Linked DNA regions of Homo sapiens: region 1 is linked to region 2. The links come from fine-mapping of genetic effects on gene expression. A gene starts in region 2. The other region holds a variant in brackets. All regions are shown on one strand. Distances are from middle to middle. Region 1 overlaps THRAP3 (thyroid hormone receptor associated protein 3). Region 2 holds the start of THRAP3 (thyroid hormone receptor associated protein 3).

What was found. PIP is the estimated chance that this variant, and not a neighbour inherited with it, causes the effect. A credible set is the group of variants that fine-mapping cannot tell apart.
Region 1: its variant is the best candidate, but not a certain one, in a credible set for the expression of THRAP3 in whole blood (TOPMed, PIP 0.71).

What each region holds. Positions count from the first base shown.
Region 1 is chr1:36,255,020-36,259,406 of GRCh38, reverse strand. It overlaps THRAP3 (thyroid hormone receptor associated protein 3), which reads right to left. Exons shown (of 12, transcript NM_005119.4): 2 at 1-25. Among named protein-coding and RNA genes, the nearest start is that of THRAP3, 33 kb to the right of the region's middle. RefSeq lists a silencer at 1,738-1,797. The variant C/G (reference allele first, on the strand shown) is at 2,405.
Region 2 is chr1:36,222,312-36,226,698 of GRCh38, reverse strand. THRAP3 (thyroid hormone receptor associated protein 3) reads right to left here and starts at 2,256. Exons shown (of 12, transcript NM_005119.4): 1 at 2,194-2,256. RefSeq lists enhancers at 1,810-2,338, 2,170-2,379, 2,339-2,866, 2,780-3,079, 3,290-3,459 and a silencer at 2,510-2,629.

The sequences.
Region 1 (4,387 bases), 33 kb before region 2:
TCACTTTACAAGTCAGCATACACTTCTGAAATGAGAGAAAATAAGTAGTGATAAAATGGCTACCCAAATGCAGATTCTGTTACTGATGCTCAAAATCTATAAACACAAACCCTACTTTAGCCCTCAGCTTTACTCCAAAAGGACCCAAGCTTTTCTCTCAAAGTATGAGATGGTCTGCCTCTGTCTGACAGGTTTTCATTCATCTAACCTCCTACAGTATGGAAAGCAAAAGCCTTCCTTACTGTAACCTGATACTTTCACTGGCAATATTTCAGGTGCTAAGGTTTTCATTATGCAAGACTAATTCACAAGCTCCACAAAACTCAACCTGGTGAACCTGACAAAAATCAGATGTTTAAAATAAGAAAGCAATGAACAGAAGTATATTAAAATGAATTTAACAAATGCATTTCAAGGTAAAGTAACTCTCCGTACCTACCCATAAAAGCACAAAAATTCCCTTCTGCTCCAGTTGTCTATTCCCAGATCTATGAACATGGTCATACATCAAAGCTATGTCCAGCGTTTTCCAAAACAAACAGGAAAAACAAGTTCCAAGACCAGCAAGCTCATGTAGGTAATTAGATGTCCTCACTCCTGCCTTATCAAAACTTTGTTGTTATTCTTATTACAGGGGCAGTGGCTCACGCCTATAATCCCAGCACTTTGGGAGGCCAAGGCGGGCGGATCACGAGGTCAGGAGATCGAGATCATCCTGGCTAATATGGTGGAATCCCGTCTCTAGTAAAAATACAAAAACAAAATTAGCCAGGCGTGGCAGCAGGCACCTGTAGTCTCAGCTACTCAGGAGGCTGAGGTGGGAGAGTGGCGTGAACCCAGGAGGTGGAGCTTGCGGTGAGCCGAGATCGCGCCACTGTACTCCAGCCTGGGGGACAGAGTGAGACTTCGCCTCAAGAAAAAAAAAAATTACTAACAGGATAATACTGTTTTATCCAGATGAGGCTTAGTATTCAGATCCTTTACCAAATAACAATGTCGGTATGTGTTTCTTTATTAATGTAAGTACAAATATAGCACTTTAAAAAACTCACTCAAAATACTTTTTCATGTCTTCTCGCTATGTATTCTTCTAATTCAGCCTAGGTTACATCAGCCAAAACTTCTTCCCCTGATTCCTCACTCCAGAGGCACAGAGGGCTCACATCAGTCAGCTCTGCCTAGCTAGTGAGGGAAATCCCATGTCTGCTACAGGACTGCAAACTGCTCTTATGCTGTAACATGTTGAATTTAAAAAACAACCTATTCCAAGCCGGGCGTGGTGGCTCATGCCTGTAATCCCAGCACTTTGGGAGGCCGAGGCGGGCGGATCACGAGGTCCAGAGTTCAAGACCAGCCTGGACAACATGGTGAAACCATGTCTCTACTAAAAATACAAAAAGTAGCCGGGCATGGTGGCACATGGCTGTAATCCCAGCTATTCGGGAGGCTGAGGCAGGAGAATCCCTTGAACTCGGGAAGCAGAGGTTGCAGTGTGCCGAGATCGTGCCATTGCACTCCAGCGTGGGTGACAGAGCGAGACTCTGTCTCAAAACAACAAAAAAACACAATCTATTCCAATACATCCATCTTTCCCTCTAATTCTAACCAGATGGCAAAAGTACACACACATAAATCTCCCATTTTATTACTCCATCATATTTCCTATTAATTAACCTCTTCTTGGATATTGGCAAGAATTTTATCATTCCAACAAGTCTTCAATTCCCCATTGTTGCGATGAGTGAATAAGCAAATCTGAGGCTCTGGCCTTTAGTTACTCTGTGACAGCGAAGAGACACCTGAAACCCTGAGTCACCCCCTGCCACCACAGTTGCCCTCCTCCTGCCTAGCCTGTCCTGCATGTCATCTGGCCAGCCACAGGCATACTTGTCAGCCTCTATCTCCTGAACCTCCTTTGGCCAAACAGCAGTGTATTAGCAAGGAGACTCCACAATAGACCCTCTTCCCTTCTACACATTACTAATTGTCCACTTATTCAACAAATAATTTATTAAGTACTGACTACATGCCAGGCACTATTCTAAACACTGGAGGTTCAATAATTTAAAAGTCCCTTCATGCCTGGAACTGACATTCTAGTGAGCAGATGAGGGCACCTGGAGGAGTAAAAGTTATACAATTTTATATCACGCATTAAGGGAAGGCCTCTCTCATGAGACAGCTGAGCAGAGACGGAAGAAAAAGAGTATACTGGGCCTTATCTGAGGAAACAGCAAATGCAAAGACCCTGGGGAGGAAACATGCCTGACTGTCTGAGGAAGAGACAAAAATAAGAATGTCTGCAATGTTGGCCAAGCGCGGTGGCTCACACCTGTAATCCCACCACTTTGGGAGGCCGAGGCGGGCAGATCACCTGAGGTCGGGAGTTCAAGACCAGCCTGAC[C/G]AACATGGAGAAACCCCGTCTTTACTAAAAACACAAAAAATTAGCCTGGCGAGGTGGCTGGTGCCTGTAATCCCAGCTACTCAGGAGGCTGAGGCAGGAGAATCACTTGAACCTGGGAGGCAGAGGTTGTGGTGAGCCGAGATCGCACCACTGCACTCCAGCCTGGACAACAATAGCGAAACTCTTGTCTCAAAAAAAAAGAATGTCTGCAATGCAAACGGTTACCAATGAGCTGTTGGTAGATCAGGTCAGAAACACAGCTGAATGGACAGGGCCTTGCAATCAAAGTAAGGACTTTGGTTTTCCTCTGGGTAATGAGGGCAGCCACTGGAGTGTTTAGAGCATAAAATAGGAGCATAATTATGTTTCAAAATACCACAAACTGCAATGATACATGCTCGCTGCTGCGTGGAGAACAGATTTTAATGGGTCACAAATAGAAGAAATTAGTAGATAATGCCCAAAATAATCCAGGCAGGGTCGGGCGCAGTGGCTCATGCCTGTAATCCCAGCACTTTGGGAGGCCGAGGCGGGCGGATCACGAGGTCAGGAGATGGAGACCATCCTGGCTAACATGGTGAAACCCCGTCTCTACTAAAAATACAAAAAATTAGCCAGGCGTGGTGGCGGGCGCCTGTAGTCCCAGCTACTCAGGAGGCTGAGGCAGGAGAATGGCGTGAACCCAGGAGGCAGAGGTTGCAGTGAGCCAAGATTGCGCCACTGCACTCCAGCCTGGGGGACAGAGCAAGACTCCATCTCAAAAAGTAATAATAATAATAATAACAATAATAACAATAATAATAATAATAATAATCCAGGCAGGCCAGGTGTGGTGGCTTACAACGATAACCCCAACATTATGGGAGGCTGAGGCAAGAGAACTGCCTGAGCCCAAGAGACAGAGGCTGCAATGAGCCATGTTCACACTACTGCACTCCAGCCTAGGTGACAGAGCAAGACCTTGTCTCAAAAAAGAATAAAATAATAATAATGATCCAGATAAAGGACAACAGTGCCTTAGACCAGCGTGTCACTCAGAACGCTCCCATGTTCCACACATTAGTAGACCTTAAACGACGATATAGTTTCCAAATCCAAACAAAGGGTAAACGCTAACATTCTAGGACCATACCATTTGTATCTCCTATGGTACACAAGACTGAATTTTTTTTTCCTTATCTCACCTCAAGTACCCCTGGCAATCTTTCTTTCTTTTCTTTTTTTTTTTTTGAGACAGAGTCTCACTCCCTCACCCAGGCTGGAGTGCAATGGTGCAATCTCAGCTCACTGCAACCTCCGTCTCCTGGGATCAAGCAATTCTCCTGCCTCAGCCTCCCTAGTAGCTGGGATTACAGGCATGCACAACCACACCCAGCTATTTTTTTTTTGTATTTTTAGTAGAGACAGGGTTTCACCATGTTACCCAGGCTGGTCTCAAGCTCCTGACCTCAAATGATCCGCCCACCTCAGCCTCCCAAAGTGCTGGGATTACAGGCATGAGCCACCGCGCCTGGCCTGGCATTCTTTTTTTTAATTAAATAGAGACAGGGTCTCACTATGTTGCCCAGGCTGGTTTCGAACACCTGCCCTCACATGATCCGCCAGCCTCAGCCTCCCAAAGTGCTGGGATTACAGTGCGAGCCACAGTACCCGGCCCCTGGCAATCTTTTATTGAGAACTACAGAACATAAGGAAACACTTTGCCCACTCTTGTGAACCTGAGGCCAAAGATAGTCCTTTAAACCACCAGGCGTAACAAGCAAGCTTATGTAATACTTGAGGACTAATGTGTTCTTGTTTCAAAAGCATGATGATAGCAATTAAAAGCGAAAAAAAGAAGACAGTGTCAAGTTAACCCAAAGTATCTAATGAATAACAAAATGTAATCTCAGCAATTCCCCACTGTAAAAAAAAAATACTAAGCATAAGATGACAGCTTAGCAAATAAACCTTTAGTTTTTACCACAGAAAACTGTGCAATGT
Region 2 (4,387 bases):
TCCACCAAAACCCTGTATTTGAGAGAATAGCATTAACCAGACTTCCTTGCATTCAGGATGTCAATATGCCCTACAGAAACAGGGTAGCGCCCTAAAATGCTTAGTGGTTAGGACTATCCATTCTAAAAATAATAAATCGTGGCCGGGCGCGGTGGCTTACGCCTGTAATCCCAGCACTTTGGGAGGCCGAGGCAGGTGATCCCCTGAAGTCAGGAGTTCAAGACTAGCCTGGCCAACATGGTGAAACCCCGTCTCTACTACAAATACAAAAATGAGCCAGGCGTGGTGACACACACCTGTAATCCCAGCTACTCAGGAGGCAGAAGCAGGAGAATCGCTTGAACCCAGGAGGCGGAGGTTGCAGTGAGCCGAGATTGTGCCCCTGCACTCCAGCCTGGGTGACAGCGCGAGACTTTGTCTCAAAAAATAATAATAATAATAAATCGTATGTCTGTGTACCCTCCCAGTCATCAACATTTCCCATCTCTGTGCTAATCTCAGAAATATTCCAAGCTTCCTCCCTCCAATTCCTCGGAACAAAATAGATCACTCTTTTTGTAATCCATATTTTGCAGGCTAAACCAAATTTAAAAGTACCTATATATTTGGTATTAAATAAATACACTAAGGTGGTACTACTACTACCATCACCACTGCTAAAATTGAACTGTACCTAGTCTACAAAACTAAAAACATCAGTCTCCAAAATTGGAGATCTTTCTCTGGTGTTAAAACGTTTAAAAAACAAAGAGATGGAATTACACTGGATATAGAGGTTTTTAATCAAATCACTTCTTACAGAAACCTCAACACAACTCTCTTACAAAATGCAATTAAGCCCAAATGGCTGCAGTAAAACTTATCATTAACGTATGAACATTGGCTCACAAAATACATCTCCCGGCAAAGAACAAACTGAGCCCGATTTGCTCCACAAGTTGTTCATGGCAGGAGCCGGTTTTGGCTATTTAACAAGCTTCTAAATCATAATACACACGTCAGACTGTCTAGAATTACAGAACAGACTACAACAGTACTTCCACAAACGAAAAAAGTCAGGGTCATCTGAAACAGAAGAAAAATAACGGTGTGATACACGCCTCATCTCTCTCGGCGCACACTCTAAAAAAAAAACCTATAAATGATGATATTACTTTTTAACAGTGGCTAAGTGATTTTTATTTTATCTCATTTAGTCTCCACAATAACCCTGTAAAGGGGTCACTGTTACTTACTGCTGTTTTAGTGATAAGAAAACTGAGGCAGCTGGAGATGAAGACTCTTGACCTAAGATCAAAAGATAGCAGGGCCAAGATTTAAACCCAAGCCAACTGGTTCAGGATACTTCTGTTATGCTCCCAACAGAAGCTTCACTGCCTCTCTCTTGCCAGGTCCTTCTATACTCTCAGAGGCTTTCCCTTCACCCCAAGTAACAAATTCCCCATAAACACTGTACTGCCACTGATGGCTTCCAACTTCTGTGCACCATTGCTGCTCCCCAGCTTCTGCTGCCATGCTCCACCCCTAAGATTTGTAAAGTCAAAGACAACAGTTGATAAAAGTTGCTTAGGTGCTAAGAGAAGCAAAATAATTCACCTCATATAAGCAGAACTCACGCCGATTGCCACTGGAATGCAAGCCGGCCTCAGCTCCAGCCCAAGAAAAAAGTGAGAACTCTAATATTCCCGTAGGAGACAAATTTGGACTATCCCGTTTTTGGCCACCAGGCTGGAAAGAACGGAAGCGGTACTAACATTTACTGAGTGGCAGCCACATGCGCCCTAGGAGAAGACCGAACCAGGCCAATGGGGACTGGGTGGGGGGAAGGGCACTCGGGAGTTCCGGGAAAAGAAATCCAAATAACGGGGTTCATACGACCAAAACGGGAGGAGTAGGGAGTGGCCGCCCCCAGGCCGACTGCAAGATAAAGCGGCGTAGGAGCTGCTCTGCAGAGAAGGCGACCAAGAGCCTTGGGAGCTAGGCCGGGGCCAGGGGAAGACCTAAAGGGCGGGGAAGGGGAGGAGCCGGAGGGAACGGAGCCCGCTCAGAAGAGGCCAGGGTGTAAGCTGGGGGGAGCGACTCCACGCCAGGCCTTCCCCGAGCCCCTGACCAGCAGCTGGGGAAAAAAGATAAGAGACGAAACCACTAGAGCCGGTTAAGCTGCCCTAACTTCCATCAGAGGCGCTCACTCACCTGGGCCTACCACAGAGATCGCAGCTGCAGCTCGCAACGGAACAACCAGCCCGAACCTCGCCCCCGCCCCACAGCGCGCCCAGCGTCTCCGCTCTCCGACGACGGCGACGGCGTAGACCCGCTGCCTCCTGGGAAATGTAGTCCTACGCCCTCCTCTCCTGGCCGACTTGGCTGCCATCAGAACTACGTTTCCCAAAAGACAAGGCGAGCGTTGGGCCCGCCGCTTTGCGTCACGCGCTCGGTTGTCGGCGGTCACGTGGGTTGCTCGGGGCCGTCCCCTCCCCCCGCCTGGGTGGCCTGGAGATGGAGGAGGGCGGTGGACGGAAGGGGCGGGGGCGTTGCTGACGCCACTGCCCCCACCATTTTGGAACCAGCCTGGAGGGAGAGTCTGAGCCCCACCCACTCCGGGCCAGCTTGCCTTGTTGAAAAGCTTCCGAGTTGGAAGTCGAGTCTCCCTGTTTTTGGTCTCTGCTGCGCTCCCTTCCGCTTTGTGACCTTGAGCAAATTCATCCCTCCTCTCTAAACTTGTTTCCTCCCCTGTGAAATGAGACTTGTAATTTCTACCCCACAGCGATGTTGCCAGGCTCCGACAAAGTAAGGCACAGGAAAGCCTCAAGCACCCTGAAAGCGCAACGCAAATGGAGGGGTTGGTTTGGTTTCGTTTTTTTAATTTTAATTGTGTGACCTCATTCGGAGACCCAGAAACCGCCTCTCCCCAGCCTGCCTTCTGTAACTATGATTTTCTGACTGTCGTCCTGGGAAGTTTGTTAAAATGGGTGCTACTGGGGTATTGAACCAAAAGTTTACCGGGGAGTGTCTCCCTGCAGTCTACATTTTAAACCGATCTCTCGGGTGATTCTTACCCACCTACAAATTTGAGAATCTCTGCGTTTATCAGTTTTGCACAGGCTGGTTTCCTCCGGAATTTCTGCTCTAGTGTCTCTGAACATTTAAGACCCATCTCATAGGTCATCTGTGATGCTTTCAAAGTTGACTAGCTCCTCCCTATGCCTGTGTTCCCACAGTAAGTTTGCATCTTACTCTGTAAGTATCGGGGCCTTCCCCGACAAGACTGTGAGCTCTTTGAGAGCCGAGATCAGTTTTGATGGATTTCTGCACCTCCAGAGAAAAGTAGACACAGTACACATCAATTAATAAAGAAATCTAATGCTCTTCCTAAGAGAAAAGCTGCAAGGCTCAACTCAAGTAGCAGACCACGCCACATCAGCCCTTGCCCTTAGTGGCTTCGGCAGCATTCCTTGCACACGGCTTACTCTTTCTTCCTTCTTTGAGCACTTCTTGTGGTCGACGTACTGCGCAGTGCTTCTTAAAACGTTCTAATTTAATTGATTTTATTTTTATTTATTTATTTATTTATTTATTGAGATTCTCCCTATGTCGCCCAGGCTGGAGGGCAGTGGTGCGATTTTGGGTCACTGCAACATCTGCCTCCCAGGTTCAAGCGATTCTCCTGCCTAAGCCTCCTGAGTAGCTGATTTTACGGGCATATGCCACCACCCGGCTAATTTTTCTACTTTTTGTGGAGACGGGGTTTCGCCACGTTGGCCAAGCTGGTATCAGACTCCTGACCTCAAGTGATCCACCTGCCTCGGCCTTCCAAAGTGCTGGGATTACAGGCGTGAGCCACGGGGCTGAACCAATGTAATTTTAAATTCAAAGATTTTCTGGGTGTCTACTGTATACAATGCCCAGTGTAAAATACTGGGAACACGGTAGTAAACTAGATGGATACCAAAATACATAATTTTGGCTCCCCTTTTAAGAAATACAGGCATAGGCCGGGCGCGGTGGCTCACGCCGGTAATCCCAACGCTTTGGGAGAACCGAGGCGGGCAGCTCACCTGAGGTCAGGAGTTCGTGATCAGCCCAGCCAACATGGCGAAACCCGTTCTCTACTAAAAATACTACAGATTAGCCGGGCGTGGTGGTGGGCACCTGTAATCCCAGCTACTCAGGAGGCTGAGACAGGAGAATCGCTTGAACCCAGGAGGTGGAGGTTGCAGTGAGCCGAGATCATGCCACTGCACTCCAGCCTGGGCGACAGAGCAAGACTCCGTCTCAAAAAAAAAGAAAAGAAAAAAAGAAATACAGGCATATCTCAAATATTGCAGGTTCAGTTCCAGAACACCACAATAAAGCAAAGATTGCAGTAAGGTTAGTCCAAGTTTCCCAG